4 linked regions of the Homo sapiens genome follow. The protein of the gene in region 1 purifies or fractionates together with the protein of each later gene. This does not show direct contact. Each region holds a gene or a part of one and is shown in the gene's direction. Other genes may lie near its edges.

The links.
Region 2: the proteins of SMARCAD1 (region 1) and ZNF45 purify together in Homo sapiens (co-immunoprecipitation; one large-scale study listed by IntAct). This does not show direct contact.
Region 3: the proteins of SMARCAD1 (region 1) and ZNF829 purify together in Homo sapiens (affinity purification with mass spectrometry, with the first as the bait; one study listed by BioGRID). This does not show direct contact.
Region 4: the proteins of SMARCAD1 (region 1) and ZNF627 purify together in Homo sapiens (co-immunoprecipitation; one large-scale study listed by IntAct). This does not show direct contact.

The regions. Positions count from the first base shown.
Region 1 is NC_000004.12:94,276,429-94,282,026, forward strand, and holds part of SMARCAD1 (SWI/SNF-related matrix-associated actin-dependent regulator of chromatin subfamily A containing DEAD/H box 1), read left to right. Parts: coding exon 1-46; intron 47-593; coding exon 594-731; intron 732-1,993; coding exon 1,994-2,089; intron 2,090-2,187; coding exon 2,188-2,305; exon of another isoform or gene 2,306-2,494; coding exon of another isoform or gene 2,495-2,500; coding exon 2,501-2,622; intron 2,623-4,163; coding exon 4,164-4,352; intron 4,353-5,043; coding exon 5,044-5,162; intron 5,163-5,598. UniProt on the Homo sapiens protein: DNA helicase that possesses intrinsic ATP-dependent nucleosome-remodeling activity and is both required for DNA repair and heterochromatin organization.
Region 2 is NC_000019.10:43,912,124-43,916,251, reverse strand, and holds the end of ZNF45 (zinc finger protein 45), read left to right. Parts: intron 1-1,051; coding exon 1,052-2,865; 3' UTR 2,866-3,628; downstream 3,629-4,128. UniProt on the Homo sapiens protein: May be involved in transcriptional regulation.
Region 3 is NC_000019.10:36,887,624-36,891,005, reverse strand, and holds the end of ZNF829 (zinc finger protein 829), read left to right. Parts: 3' UTR 1-2,882; downstream 2,883-3,382. UniProt on the Homo sapiens protein: May be involved in transcriptional regulation.
Region 4 is NC_000019.10:11,613,435-11,617,071, forward strand, and holds part of ZNF627 (zinc finger protein 627), read left to right. Parts: intron 1-1,092; coding exon 1,093-1,219; intron 1,220-1,392; coding exon 1,393-1,453; intron 1,454-3,260; coding exon 3,261-3,637. UniProt on the Homo sapiens protein: May be involved in transcriptional regulation.

The DNA.
Region 1 (5,598 bases):
GAAGAATATGGGCTCCATTCGCTACCAGCACCTTATGACAATTAATGTAAGAGAATGTTTGTAAAGTTTTCCAAATTACTGTAAAATTTAGATTACGTAATTTAATATATGTAGTATTTATTAGCAGAATCTGTATTATGTAGTTTAATATATGTAGTATTCTGTGTTAGCAAGTTTTTTCTGTAAAAGGGAAGATAGTAAATATTTCACACTTTATGGACTAGATGGCCTCTGTCACGTATTCTTTGATTTTGTTTTTTAACAACCCTTTAAAAAATTATTAGGTCATAAGCCATAATTTACCTGTTCTATATGTTAAACTATTTATAAATAATCTTTCATCATCTCATAAAGGTGATACGAGGACACAAGTTACCTACTTATAAAAGAAGACCAATGGTTTTCGTATTCATTGCTGTTGATAATAGCGGACGTCAATTATTTAAATTACTATATCATTTATCACAGAATGTTAAATTATTAATAATGGTTTTAATTTATCTCTCCTCCCTTCACCTTTCACTGGGGAGGATAGACATGAAAGGAGTGGCTCTTTAAGAAAAAGCTAATATAAATTTTACCTTCATTCACAGGCAAATAACCGTTTGCTGCTCACAGGCACACCTGTACAGAACAATCTGTTAGAACTCATGTCGCTGTTGAATTTTGTTATGCCACACATGTTTAGTAGTAGCACCAGTGAAATACGAAGAATGTTTTCCTCTAAGACAGTAAGCATAAATGCATATTTTCTCCCAAATATGTTATTTGTGTTTTATCTGGGCCATTCTTCTGTTAGGTCTCTTTTGTTGTTTTCATAGTGCATATGCTCTATGAAGTAACTTTAAGTAGGTGATAACTCTATATTTGGATTGGTTTGGAAACCAGCCAAAATATAATGGGAAAGAAAATAGCAATTTCCCTAATCAATGGCCAGAAGTCTTGGTTAATATCCTAATTTTCTGAAGGATGACGATTTTAAATTGATGAAGAGCTCAGATATATAGTATGTGCGGAAAGTTTGATCATTACATCATCTGTATCAAAATTGGCTACGTAAATTAGTAACATTTCTTTATGGGTAAACTATAAAACTAGACAAAGCTAGAATATCCAGAAAATGCCTATGCTGAGAAATATATTCTGAAATAAAAGTTCATAAAACCAAAGTCACAACTAAAAGCGACAGTAAAGAAATCCTCTTCACAAGAAAAGTTTTGTTACTTCTTTATTGTTTAGGAAAAGTATAGTCTTCAAGAACTCCCAGTTTTTTCAATACCGCAGTGTTTACACTGATTCTTGGCTCTCTTCCACATCACTAATCTTTTGCAAGAATTTTCTGTGATACTCGTCCACTGCAAATTAACTGCCTTTTAAACATTTACTAATTTGAATTCCCTCCCACTTAATGTACAGTGTTTTAAATGGCCTAGCAGATTTTATGAACCATTTTCTATCTTCAGTTCATAATATATGGAGGACTCCTTCACATCCTAGAATAAAATTCTACTTCTTAATTCTCCAGAGTCACCAGTTCTGACTAAGCACTATTCCCCATTTTTAGACCAAGTGATTTGCATCAGTCTGCACTAGCTTCCTTTTGGGGCCATTTTCCACAAAGAAATAAAGGATTTTCTACCCCCCACGCTCCTCCTTACCCACACTTAGACACATTTTTCAATGAGAGTTATCTAGGTAATCGATACATGACTCATCAGTTGATGACTTCTGAACACCCATCTGGTACAGTTCAAATTGATTACTTCAGTAGAGAACATGATTACGTATCATAAAACTTCAAAATACATATGGAGCTTCAAGAAGTACATGGCAGCCCAGAATTCAGATGTGAAGTGCCATCTAGAATGAATCAAGTTTCTGCAGAAAATAACTCAGACTCTAATGAGGGAGATTTTTATGTTGTGTAATAATACTGTTATTGCAATAATTTAAGTGAATAATTCCTAAAAGGATATGTTTTTATTTTGCTCAGAAATCAGCAGATGAGCAAAGCATATATGAAAAGGAGAGAATAGCACATGCAAAACAAATTATAAAGCCATTTATTCTCAGAAGAGTAAAAGAAGAGGTAATGCATATCTACATGTTTTTTATTTTTATTGTTTTTAAAACTTAGGTTTTTCTCTTTACTAGAATGATTATCTTAAACTGTTTTTTCTGTCTCAGGTTCTCAAGCAGTTACCCCCCAAGAAAGATCGAATTGAGTTGTGTGCAATGTCGGAGAAGCAGGAGCAACTCTATTTGGGTCTTTTCAACAGATTGAAAAAATCTATCAATAACTTGGGTATAATCTGATTTTTACTCTTTTATGTGAAAAAGAATCTTGTACTGGGGATGCATTTTGTTTAGTCATATAATGGGATTTGTGCATTTTAAAAAATTATCTGGAATTTGAGGAAATAATTTTAAAACTTAGTTGATATATTTCAACAGTTATCCGCTTGGTTTTATTTTTTACTGTGTTCTCTTTGAGTCACAGAAAAAAACACAGAAATGTGCAATGTCATGATGCAGTTGAGGAAAATGGCCAATCATCCTTTATTACATCGCCAATATTACACAGCTGAAAAACTCAAGGAAATGTCTCAGCTTATGCTAAAGGTAAGGATTTCATATTATGTTAACACTAAGCTTTAATAAGAGGTTAAGTTGTTAGGCTATAAGATTGGTGAACCCAATGGGCATACTAAACCTTTAACTACATATTTAAGAAAAACTTTTTTTTTTCAGACCAGGTCTGGTTCTGTTGCCAAGGCAGGCAGTCTGGGCTCACTGCAACTTCTGCCTCCTAGGCTTAAGCCATCCTCCTGCGTTGGCCTGCTGAATAGCTGGGACTACAGGCACGCACCACCATGCCCGGCTAATTTTTTTGTACGGATGGGGTTTTGCCATGTTGCCCAGGCTGGTCTTGAACTCCTGAGCTCAAGCGATTCGCCCGCCTTGGCCTCCCAAAGTGCTGGAATTACAGGCATCAGTCACTGCACTGAAACACGAAAAACACATTTTAGACTAAGTTCAAAATGATCTGGGGGACATAAAAACAAAGAAGGACTGATAACCTACATTATAAGTCAGCAAACTATGGCCTTACGGCAGTGACTATTTTTATAAATAAGGTTTTACTATAACACAGTCATGCCTGTTTTTGTTTTCTGGGACTGCTTTCTCACTACAGGGGCAGAGTTGAGTACTTGCCTTACAGGTCATTTTGCCTACAAAGCCTAAAATATGATCTGGCCCTTTACAGGAACAGTTTGCTAACTCCTAGTCTAGACTTCCATAATGCACTTCTTTTTCATTTTATTTCTTTATAATTTTAGCAATTACTCTTTATTTTTGCCTCTTTCTCCTTTAACATTTTAACCTTATTTATCCTTACTGATCTTTGGTTGAAAGCAACCCATTTTCTTCCTTTTCTTTACTTTTTTTTTTGAGATAGACTTTTGCTCTTGTCGCCCAGGCTGGAGTGCGATGGCATGATCTCTGCTCACTGCACCCTCCGCCTCCCAGGTTCAAGTGATTGTCCTGCCTCAGCATCCTGAGTAGCTGGGATTACAGGCACCTACCACTACGCCCAGCTAATTTTTGTATTTTTAGTAGAGATGGGGTTTCACCACGTTGGCCAGGCTGGTCTCGAACTCCTGACCTTAGGTGATTTACCCACCTCGGCTTCCCAAAGTGCTGGGATTATAGGCGTGAGCCACTGCACCTGACCAACCCATTTCTTTTTAAATTTTTTTTTATTATTTTAAACTTATGGAGAATTTCAAACATTTATAAAAGTAGAATTGCATAATGAAACTGCCCATATGTTACTTCACCCCTTTGAAAGTTACCATTTGATAATAACACCACCCTTGTTTCATCTATACCCCAGACTTCTCCCCAGGGTTATTTTGAACCAAGTTCTAGATGTTATTTCATCTGTAAATATTTTAGTATGTTATCTCTCAAACAGTAAGGACTTCTCCCCCTTTATTATACCTAAAAGATTAATACTAATTTTCCTTGATAAGTCTGTTACACTAAAAGGTTCTATGATTTAGATATTTTATCAGGTATAAACAGTTTTATTAAACTTTTCTCATCATATTATTAATTATTTTTATTTTGAAGTATACTGTGTTTTGTTTTGTTTTAAGGAACCTACACATTGTGAGGCTAACCCTGACCTGATCTTTGAAGATATGGAAGTTATGACAGACTTCGAACTACATGTACTTTGTAAACAGTACCGACACATTAATAACTTTCAGTTAGACATGGACTTGATTTTAGATTCTGGAAAATTTCGAGTTTTAGGATGCATCTTGTCTGAATTGAAACAGAAGGTATTAAAAAAGAATGGCGTTTCTTTTGTATTTTCTCAATTACTTTAACTTCTTAAAGCAATTCTGGCACACTGACTTGCTTGAATTAGCCTATGTCTGTTCTGCATTCTTCCAGAACTTAGTGTTTTGAACATTTTCTTGACGTATTTTCTTGATTACCTCCTTTCCTCTGTTGAACCTCAGACAAAAACAATAGAAAGTTAGTAGACTGTATCTGTATTGATGTTTTAAAAAAATCTTAATTGTCATTATTTCATAGGTGACAATCTGTATGTGTGCTTCAAAATTAGTTTTTAAAGACACTATTTGTTAGTTATTTAAGTAATGCTGCCGTTTATGTGTGAAATAGCCTAAATTTGTAAAATCACAGTCCAGATAATACATACATAAGCAGTTGTCCACATTTTCCGACGTTTTTCTTATGAAAAGGAAGTAATTTAACTGTTCTTAAAATCAAAACTGAGAGCTAGCTTTTAGCCCTGAAGTTAAGGCAGTTTATTCATATATAGGCTGCAATAAGACATACGTCTTCGGTATTACTGATTTGTATTAAAGAAGCAGTTTATCACAGAGAATTTTCTGCAAATTTATCAACATGATATAAGTAACACTTCTAACTGTTTAAACCTGTCAAGGCTTTGAGTAGTAAAACGATTTTTTCTATTTCTAATTCATGTATGTATTTTCACAGGGTGATAGAGTTGTGTTATTTAGCCAATTTACCATGATGCTGGATATCTTAGAGGTTCTATTAAAACATCATCAGCATAGGTACCTCAGATTAGATGGAAAGACTCAGATTTCTGAAAGGTTGGTATAATTCATGTTAGTTACAAAAAAATAACTCATTTATTATTATTGTTAGGATTTTAATTGTCTAACAAACAATTGATAGTATTTTGTTGTTTTTATGTTTGATTACTTCAAATCATTACCTTAAAATAAGAGTAATTTCAATGGTCAGGCATGGTGGCTCACGCCTGTAATCCCAACACTTTGGGAGGCTGATGCGGGCGGATTGGTTGGGCTCAGGAGTTCAAGACTACCCTGGACAACATGACAAAACCCTGTCTCTACTAAAAACACCAATAGCAACAACAACAACAACAAAAATAGCCAGGTGTGGTGGTGCACGCCTGTGGTCCCAACTAGGGAGGCTGAGGTGGGAGGATTGTTTGAGCCCCGGGGGGCGGAGGTTGCAGTGAGCCAAGATCGCACCACTGCACTGTAGCCTGGGTGACAGAGC
Region 2 (4,128 bases), on another chromosome or scaffold:
TCCCAGCAGCTTGGGGGGATAAGGCAGGAGAATCACTTGAGTCAGGAGGTTGAGGCTGCAGCAAGCCATGTTTGTGCCACTGCATTCCAGCCTGGGTGACAGAGTGAGACTCTGTCTCAAAAAAACAAAAAGAAGGCCAGGTGCCGGTGGCTCGCACCTGTAATCCCAGCACTTTGGGAGGCCGAGGCAGGTGGATCACGAGGTCAGGAGATTGAGACCAGCCTGACCGACATGGTGAAACCCCCCTGGTGGTTATGGAAACTTTAATTGCTATCAGGTTTTAGAATAATGTGTGTTATTACCATAAACCTCTTCTCCCAGGTGTTCTCATGGAGGCTATTTCCTAGCAAGAGGTAAAGGACCACTATCTGTTTACACTCGAACTTTAGGTATGTAGGTCAGTGATCCCCAATCTTGGCACCAGGGACTGGTTTGTTGGAAGATGGTTTTTCCACAGACTGGGGTCGGGGGGATGGTTTTGAAATGAAACTGTTCTACCTCAGATCATCAGACCTCAGTTAGATTCTCATAAGATTAGATTCTCACGCAACCTAGATCCCTCGCACGCGCAGTTCACGATAGGATTCGCACTCCTATAAGAATCTAATGTCACCATTGATGTGACAGGAGGCAGAGCTCAGGCAGTAATGCCCACTGGCCTCCCGCTCACCTCCTGCTGTGTGGCCCAGATCCTAACAGGCCACGGACTGGTACTGATCCACGGCCCAGGGGTTGGGGGCCCTGACTTAGGTGATAAGGTATTTTCTGAAAAATGTGTCTTTCTAACTAGCACAGTGCCTCAACATCTCCCAACCTTGGAATAAACTTCCAATGAAATAATCCCAGGCAAAGGTTTTTGAAAATTTATGTGTAGGAGTTTTACTAGACATTTTGAACAGGGCCACTTTGTTCAGATGTCTATGCAGTAGGCAATGGAACCTTCTCCTGGTTCAATGAAGCCTTAGGCTATGGGCCCGAGTTTATAAACTTGACATCTTGGAACAAAACATTATTCACATGCCCCATCTCCACATTTTCTTTATCCTTTTAGGAGCCAAGAATCTAAAAGAGATGGAGACTCTTCAAGAAGTAGGATTAAGGTACCTGCCTCATGAAGAGCTTTTCTGCTCCCAGATCTGGCAACAGATTACAAGAGAGTTAATCAAGTATCAAGATTCTGTGGTAAATATTCAAAGAACAGGCTGCCAGTTGGAAAAACGAGATGATTTGCACTATAAAGATGAGGGATTCAGTAATCAGAGTTCCCATCTTCAAGTTCACAGAGTCCACACTGGTGAAAAACCCTACAAAGGAGAACATTGTGTGAAAAGTTTCAGCTGGAGCTCTCATCTTCAAATTAACCAAAGGGCTCATGCAGGAGAGAAGCCCTACAAATGTGAAAAATGTGATAATGCCTTCCGTCGGTTTTCAAGTCTTCAAGCCCATCAGAGAGTCCACAGTAGAGCAAAATCATACACAAATGATGCAAGTTACAGGAGTTTTAGTCAGAGGTCACATCTTCCCCATCATCAGAGAGTTCCCACTGGAGAGAATCCATACAAATATGAAGAGTGTGGGAGGAATGTTGGGAAAAGCTCACATTGTCAAGCTCCTCTGATAGTTCATACGGGAGAGAAACCCTATAAATGTGAGGAGTGTGGGGTGGGCTTCAGTCAGAGATCATATCTTCAAGTTCATCTGAAAGTTCACACTGGAAAGAAACCATATAAGTGTGAAGAGTGTGGGAAGAGCTTCAGTTGGCGTTCACGACTGCAGGCTCATGAGCGAATCCACACTGGCGAGAAACCATACAAATGCAATGCATGTGGCAAGAGCTTTAGTTACAGCTCACACCTTAATATTCATTGTAGAATCCACACAGGAGAGAAACCCTATAAGTGTGAGGAGTGTGGGAAAGGTTTCAGTGTGGGTTCACACCTTCAGGCCCATCAGATAAGCCACACTGGAGAGAAGCCATACAAATGTGAGGAGTGTGGGAAAGGCTTCTGCCGGGCCTCAAATCTGCTGGACCATCAAAGAGGCCATACTGGAGAGAAACCGTATCAGTGTGATGCATGTGGTAAGGGCTTCAGTCGTAGCTCAGATTTTAACATTCATTTTAGAGTCCATACAGGGGAAAAACCCTATAAATGTGAGGAGTGTGGCAAGGGCTTCAGCCAGGCCTCAAATCTTCTGGCCCATCAAAGAGGCCACACTGGAGAGAAACCCTACAAATGTGGTACATGTGGGAAGGGCTTCAGTCGGAGCTCAGATCTTAATGTACACTGTAGAATCCACACAGGAGAGAAACCCTATAAATGCGAGAGGTGTGGTAAGGCCTTCAGTCAGTTCTCCAGCCTTCAGGTGCATCAGAGAGTTCACACTGGAGAGAAACCATATCAGTGTGCAGAGTGTGGGAAGGGCTTCAGTGTAGGTTCACAGCTTCAAGCCCATCAGAGGTGCCACACTGGAGAGAAACCCTATCAATGTGAGGAGTGTGGGAAGGGCTTCTGTCGGGCCTCCAATTTTCTGGCACATCGTGGAGTCCACACAGGAGAAAAACCATACCGATGTGATGTGTGTGGTAAGCGCTTCAGACAGAGATCCTACCTTCAAGCCCACCAGAGGGTCCACACAGGAGAGAGACCATACAAATGTGAGGAATGTGGGAAAGTCTTCAGCTGGAGCTCATACCTTCAAGCCCATCAAAGAGTTCACACCGGAGAAAAACCATACAAATGTGAGGAGTGTGGGAAGGGCTTCAGTTGGAGCTCAAGTCTTATCATTCATCAGCGAGTCCATGCTGATGATGAGGGTGACAAGGACTTTCCTTCATCAGAGGATTCACACAGGAAAACTCGATAAAATATGTTTTACTATCTCAGATGGGTGCTGAAATATTTTAATAATCAGAGCTATCATAGACAAAACATTTGTTTTATAGAGTCAGTAGTTCAGCCAAGTGATTGGGAGACCACACAGCAGAGAAGCCTCACAAGAGTGGAGACATATGGACTGCATTCAGAACATTGACCATTAGCTGATACATGCAGACAAGAGGATCAGGAAGGATGAGTCTGATCTGGAGTAAATCAGAAGTACTAAGATAGAAATGCTGAATTCTGTTCCACTAGAATATAAGATCCAAGAGGGCAGGGACTTTGTTGACTGCCAAATCTACTCTGCCTTTTCAGTGCCTAATACGTTGTAATTTTTCAGTAGTATTTGAAATTACTGTCATATTTGAAATTCAGTAATATTTGACATTTTTATTTATCTCTAGAAGTTTCTCTAAAATTGTACTCAGAAGAATTCTGCAAGGCTTGGAGGATATATAAGTTAGTCATATGGCCTGATTTTCCCATTTTTGCAGATCTCGTGGACAAGTGTTTATCAAACTGAAGGTTGCAGCTTGTTAGTGGGTTCAGAAATCAGTTTCTGGCTAGCAACTAGAAGTTTTGTATGTTAACAGTACTTTATTGAGGTGTAATCTGCATGCAGTAACATGCACAAGTCTCAAGTTCATGGCTTTCTGAATTTTGACAAATGTAATCATCACCAAGATCAATGTATACAATATGTCTATTAAACCAAAAAGTTTTCTTGTGCCCATTTCCAGTCAATCCCACCTCCAGTGCCAAGTATTATGATTTCTATACCATAAATTAATTAGGTCTGTTCCTGAGCTTCCTATGGATTTAGTATGTACTCTTATATCTGGATTCTTATGATCAAATGTATGATCATCTCAGTAGATTCAGAGAAAACATTTGACAAAATTTAGCATCCACTCATGATGAAAAAATTCTTCAATGAGATAAAAGGCATCCATGAAAATCATATAAGCTAACATTCTTTTTTTAATTAGGGAATAATTTATATACAGTGAAACTGACTCTATCATGCATTTTGGCAAGTGCTGTTATGTGAACACCACCATCACAATCAAGATAGTCTATAGTTCTAGTACCCCCTGCCCTGAAACTTGCTTGTTCTGTTTAGTCAGCTCCTCTCCCCACCACCAGCCCTTGTCAACTGACTCATTTTCTGTCTGTATAGTTTATATCATTTCCAGAATGTCATATAAATGGAATTCTAGAGTATGTTTCCTTTGGAGTCGCACCTTTC
Region 3 (3,382 bases), on another chromosome or scaffold:
ACCGGTACCAGGGGTTAGGACTTCAGCATATCTTTTTAGGGGATACAGTTCAACCCATAATACCCTGTTAGAATGATTTTGTCTAATATATTTGTAATTTCCTTTTATACATAAGTTGTTAGTCAAATTTATTTTATTTTATTTTATTTTGAGACAGAGTCTCGCTCTGTTGCCCAGGCTGGAGTGCAGTGGTGTGATCTCAGCTCACTGCAACCTCCAGCTCCTGAGTTCAAGCGATTCTTGTGCCTCAGCCTCTCAAGTAGTTGGGATTACAGGCATGCGCCACCATGCCCGGCTAATTTTTTTTTTTTTTTTTTTTGTATTTTTAGTAGCGACGGGGTTTCACCATGTTGGCCAGGCTGGTCTTGAACTCCTGACTTCAAGTGATCTGCCCGCCTCAGCCTCCCAAAGTGCTGGGATTACAGACGTGAGCCACCGTGATGGCCAAAACAGACTTTATACCAACAAAAATTAAAAAGGACAAAGAAGGTCATTTATAATGATAAAGGATAAATTCAACAAGAAGATAAAACAATCCTAAATATGTATGCACCCAACACTGCAACACCCAGATCCATAACACAGATACTACTAGACCTAAGAAAAGAGATAGACAGCAATACAACAATAGCAGGGGACTTCACCACTCCATTGACAGCACTAGACAGATCACTGGGACAGAAATCAACAAAGAAACTCTGGACTTAAATTGGACTCTACACCAAATGGACCCAACAGACATCTGAAGAACATTCTACCCAACAACCACAGAATATATACTCTTCTCTTCTGTGCATGGAACATTCTCAAAAATAGGTCATATACTGGACCACAAAGCAAGTATCAATAAATTTTAAAAAAACAAAATCATATCTAACATCTTCTCTGACCATAGTGGAATAAAACTAGATATCAATACCAAGAGGAACTCTCAAAACAGATACATGGAATTTAAACAGCTTGCTCCTGAATGATTTTTGGATCAATGATGAAACTAAGGTGGAAATTTAAAATTTTTTGAAATAAATGAAAATAGAGACAAAACACATGAAAACATCTGAGATACAGCAAAAGCAGTGCTAAGAGAGGATTTTATAGCATTAAATGCCTACACCAAAAAGATAGAAAAATCTCAAATGAATAGCCTAACGTCACATCTCAAGGAACTAGGAAAAAACAAAACAAACTCAACCCAAAGCTGGCAGAAGAAAAGCAATAACAAATATCAGAGCAGGCAAAAATGAGACTGAGAACAAAGGAATGCAAAAGATCAATAAAAGAAAAAGTTGGTTCTTTGCAAAGATAAAACTGACAGACCACTAGCTAGATTAACCAAGAAAAAAAGAAGATTCAAATAAATACAATCAGAAATGATAAGGTGATATTATAACTGATAACACAGACATATAAAATATCAGCAGAAACTATATGCACATATTAGAAAACCTAGAGGAAGTGGATAAATTCCTAGAAACACATAACCTTCCAAGATTGAACCAGGGAGAAATAGGAATCCTCAACAGACTACTGAGTATTGAAATTGAATCAGTAATAGAAAAAAATCTTGCAAAAACAAAAAGCCCAGGACCAGACAGATTCACAGCTGAATTCTACTAGACATGCAAGGAAGAACTAGTAACAGCACTATTGAAACTATTCCAAAAATTATAGGAGGGAATCCTCCCTAACTCATTCTACAAAGCCAGTATCATCCTGATACTGAAGCCAGGCAAGGATAAAACACACAAAAAAACTACAAGCCAATATCCCTGATGAAAATAGACACAAAAATCTTCAGCAAAATACTAGCAAACCAAATCAAACAGTACATAAAAAAGATAGTAACAGCACAGTCAAGTGGATTTTATTCCTGGGGTGTAAGGATGGCTCAACATATGCAACTCAATACATGATTCATCACATACACAGAATTAAAAATAAGCCAGGCACTCACACCTGTAATCCCAGCACTTTGCAAGGCCAAGGCGGGCAGATCACATGATGTCAAGAGTTTGAGACCAGTCTGGCTGACATGGCGAAACCCTGTCTCTACTAAAAATAGAAAAATTGGCTGGGCATGGTGGCAGGCACTGTAGTCCCAGCTACTTGGGAGGCTGAGGCAGGAGAATTACTTGAACCTGAGAAGCGGAGGTTGCAGTGAGCTGAGATAGTGCCATTGCACTCCAGCCTGGGCAACAGAGCAAATTGCTTGAATGTGGGAGGTGGAGGTTGCAGTGAGCCGAGATTATGCCATTGCACTCCAGCCGGGGGAGCAACAAAGCCAGACTCCATCTCAAAAAAAAACCAAAAAAAATCCTATTTAGTACAAGGTACATTATTTAGGTAATGAGTCCATTAAAAGCCAACACTTTCCCCACTACACTATATGTGTATGTAACACAACTGCCCTTGTAACTTCCTAAACCTATAATTAAGAAACAATAAAAGGCAAATTAAGAATGCTTTTTTAAAAGGTGGGGGCATTATGCTAATAAGTTACTGTGGATTTCAGAGTGCAGAGTAGAAAGATCACAAGAATTTAGTGTGGTAGGTGGGAACAGAAAATGGGTGTATAAATTTTATTGACGTGGGAGTACTGGATATTGTAGAGACAGATATCATCAGGGCAAGGAGATTAAAGATTTTTGCATTGACGGTTTGACACTATATTGTGGTAATAACACTGTATGTGTTGGGAGATAGAACAGGAAACATCTTCCCTGGAATATGTATACTATTAAATGTTTTATCAAACTTTTGATCAAACAAGACAGCACAATTTATAATTTCATTTCTATTTCTATGTTATGAGAAACTGATCATTTATTCAAATGTTTAACAGGCATGTTCATGTTACTATAAACTCTTCTGTTTCACCATCACGTTGTTGGTCATCTTTACTGATTACAAATTTCTTTACATATTTAAGAAATATATATATTTCTTTATATATTAAGGTTAGTGTTTGTCATATGTTGTTTCAGTAACTTTTCCTAATCTTTTGGCCTCTTTGGTATTTTTTAATAAGCAGAAATCTTTTTCACATGTAGTAAAATTTACAGTTTTTCCTGTACACATAACTATTATTTTTTCTAGATTAATATTTCTGCAGATTTGGAGTCATCCAAGAATTTAAATTGTACCTCAGGCAAAATCATGAGAATGACTTTAGGATCACTGTTACTGGCTCTAGAGTTCAGGAGACCCAATAAGTAGAGTGTGCCATTAGATGGAGTAAAATGTTGAAGAGGACCAAAATGATTCTGAGTCTCGAATCTTGACTTTTAGCCTAGCATGTCAGGAAACAGTGGTCTGGGCTCTACGTGTGTTCCTTTTGTAAAACATGGATCTAATATCATAGATGTAAATGACTCCATGTAAT
Region 4 (3,637 bases), on another chromosome or scaffold:
CTGGAGGTAGAGCTCACACATTTCTGGGGGCCCCCTATGACTGGATCCCCTGGATTTTTACCTCTTTTTTTTTAAAAAACAGCTAATTAAAAAAAATATTTAGTAGACAAGAGGTCTCGCTATGTTTTCCAGGTCAGTCTTGAACTCCTGAGCTCAAGTGATCCTCCTGCCTCCATCTCCCAAAGTGTTGGGATTACAGGCGTGAGCCACCGTGCCCAGCCAGATTTTTACACTTAGCCTTTAGTAATTCATTAGTTGCAATTTAGGTTTTCCTACCCCTGTACTGCTTCCCACAGAGATTTTGCTATGGGAGTCTGTTCTAGTAAGTTATGACTCTTTTATCAGTTAGGTTGGTGGGATCCTGTCTAAAATCCAGTACCCAGATACTGTCAAAGCTCAAACTTTGTGAACAAGCATTTCTAAAGATACACAGTCTCAGGGTGGCTAATGTTAACTCTTTTTTCTGCACTCTAGTTACTAGATTTTTTTTTTTTTTTTTTTTTTTGAGACGGAGTCTTGCCCTGTCACCCGGTCTGGAGTGCAGTGGTGCAATCTCAGCTCACTGCAAGCTTCGCCTTCTGGGTTCACGCCATTCTTCTACCTCAGCCTCCTGAGTAGCTGGGACTATGGGCACCCACCACCGTGCCTGGCTAATTTTTGTATTTTTAGTAGAGATGGGGTTTCACCTTGTTAGCCAGGATGGTCTCGATCTCTTGACCTCGTGATCCACCCGCCTCGGCCTCCCAAAGTGTTGGGATTACAGGCGTGAGCCACCGCGCCCAGCCACTACATGTTTGTTACAACAGGTGCTACAGGCCTACCTTACAGAGAGACATTAGGGGTGGCCCAGGCAGTACATACTTCTCCCACCAGAGAGGCATGCTCCTATTCTGCTGTTGCTAGTTCAGTTCTAGCAGCAGAATTGCTTTGTGGAAGGAAGTGAGTCTAGACAGAGGGTAAGTTTGATGACTGTGGAATCTTGAAATAAATGTTTGGAAAGCATAGCATCCTGAGAACTTCTTGGGAATAAAGTCTAGGCCCCCAGTGCTGTCTGTCTCAACCTTCCTCCTCCACACATGGGGGATGTTTCAGGATTCAGTGGCCTTTGAGGATGTGGCTGTGAACTTCACCCTGGAGGAGTGGGCTTTGCTGGATCCTTCCCAGAAGAATCTCTACAGGGATGTGATGCGGGAAACCTTCAGGAACCTGGCTTCTGTAGGTAAGGGTGACAATATTCCTTTCCTCAGTGAATTAGAGAACAAGTGTTTCTAGCTCCTTAACACTTTGGGGAATAAACCAGGCATGGGTACAGGGAATTATGAATATAGAATCTAATACTTTTTTCATAATTTTATACTAATTCATAATGACTTTTCTGGGTCTAAATTTTAGGAAAACAATGGGAAGACCAGAACATTGAAGACCCATTCAAAATTCCCAGGAGAAATATAAGGTAATTTGCACTCACAAAAGAAAGTTCTGTTCCTTGAGAGCATTTCGTATTGTTAGGAATTTTTTTTTTTTTTTTTTTTAGATGAAGTCTCGCTCTGTCGCCAGGCTGGAGTGCAGTGGCACAATCTTGGCTCACTGCAACCTCCGCCTCCCAGGTTCAAGTGATTCTCCTGCCTCAGCCTCCTGAGTAGCTAGGACTACAGGCACGTGCCACCACGCCGAGCTAATTTTTTGTATTTTTAGTAGAGACGGGGTTTCACCATGTTGGCCAGGATGGTCTTGTTCTCTTGACCTCGTGATCTGCCTGCCTCAGCCTCCCAAAGTGCTGGGATTACAGGCCTGAGCCACCATGCCCAGCAGGAATTTTTAAAAGCAAGCAAACAACATATAAGCCCAGCTTCAAACTGTTTTGTTTTTAGAAAATCTTCTCCAAGCCAGGCATGGTGACTCACGCCTGTAATCCCAGCACTTTGGGAGGCTGAGGTGGGCAGATCACGAGGTCAGGAGATCGAGACCATCCTGGCTAACACGGTGAAACTCCGTCTCTACTAAAAATACAAAAAAAAAGTTAGCTGGGTGTGGTGGTGGGTGCCTGTAATCCCAGCTACTCGGGAGGCTGAGACAGGAGAACGGCGTGAATTGGGAGGCAGAGCTTGCTTTGAGCCAAGATGGCACCACTGCACTCCAGCCTGGGTGACAGAGTGAGACTCTGTCTCAAAAAAGAAAAAAAGAAAATCTTCTCCAAAAACATAGTTAAGTGTAACATAGATGTTCAGTGTTTGCAAAATAGTTCAATTATAGATAGTATTAAGAAACTTCATACGAATATCTTTTTTTTTTTTTTTTTGAGAGGGAATTTCACAACTCGTTGCCCAGGCTGGAGTGCAAGGGTGCCATCTTGGCTCACTGCAACCTCCGCCTCCTGGATTCAAGCGATTCTCCTGCCTGAGCCTCCCGAGTAGCTGGGATTACAGGCGCCTGCCACCACACCTGGCTAATTTTTTGTATTTTTAGTAGAGACAGGGTTTCACCATGTTGGCCAGGCTGGTCTTGAACTCCTGACCTCAGGTGATCCACCTGCCTCAGCCTCCGAAAGTGCTGGGATTACAGATGTGAGCCACCACACCTGGCCATGAATATCATTTTCTTTCTTTCTTTTTTTTTTTTTTGAGACAGAGTTTCGCTCTTGTTGCCCAGGCTGAAGTGCAATGGCATGATCTTGGCTCACTGCACCTCTGCCTCCTGGGTTCAAGCAATTCTCCTGCCTCAGCCTCCCGAGTAGCTGGGATTACACGCGTGCTCCACTGCGCCTGGCTAATTTTTTTTATTTTTTATTTTTAGTAGAGACAGGGTTTCTCCACGTTGGTCAAGCTGGTCTTAAACTCCTGACCTCAGGTGATCCTCCTGTCTTGGCCTTCCAAAGTGCCGGGATTACAGGCATAAGCTACTGCGTCTGGCCATGAATATCATTTTTTGATAATAGGTATGGTTGTGACCTATTGCAGACCATTTAGTCCACTCATGTTCAAACAGTTGAGACAGGCATAAAACGTACACTTTCCCTGGTAATGTTAAACATGTGAATCCAAGGCCAGGCATGGTGGCTCACGCCTGTAATCCCAGCACTTTGGGAGGCAGAGGTGAGAGGATCCCTTGAGCCTTGGAGTTCAGGGTTCACGCCTGGGCAACATAGTAAGATTCTGTCTCTGTATTTAAAAACAAGTATATGTAAGTCTAATACCTATTAATAAATATAAAATCATTTATAAACAAAACATTAATAATGTACTTCTCATTTTTCTGACAAGTCATATTCCAGAGAGACTCTGTGAAAGTAAAGAAGGTGGTCAAGGTGAAGAAACCTTCAGCCAGATTCCAGATGGTATTCTGAACAAGAAAACTCCTGGAGTAAAACCGTGTGAAAGCAGTGTGTGTGGAGAAGTTGGCATGGGTCCTTCATCACTTAATAGGCACATCAGAGATCACACTGGACGTGAACCAAATGAATATCAGGAATATGGAAAGAAGTCATATACACGTAACCAGTGTGGACGAGCCTTGAGTTATCATCGCTCTTTTCCAGTACGTGAAAGGACTCATCCTGGAGGAAAGCCCTATGATTGTAAGGAATGTGGAGAAACCTTTATTTCTCTTGTAAGCATTCGAAGACACATGTTAACGCATA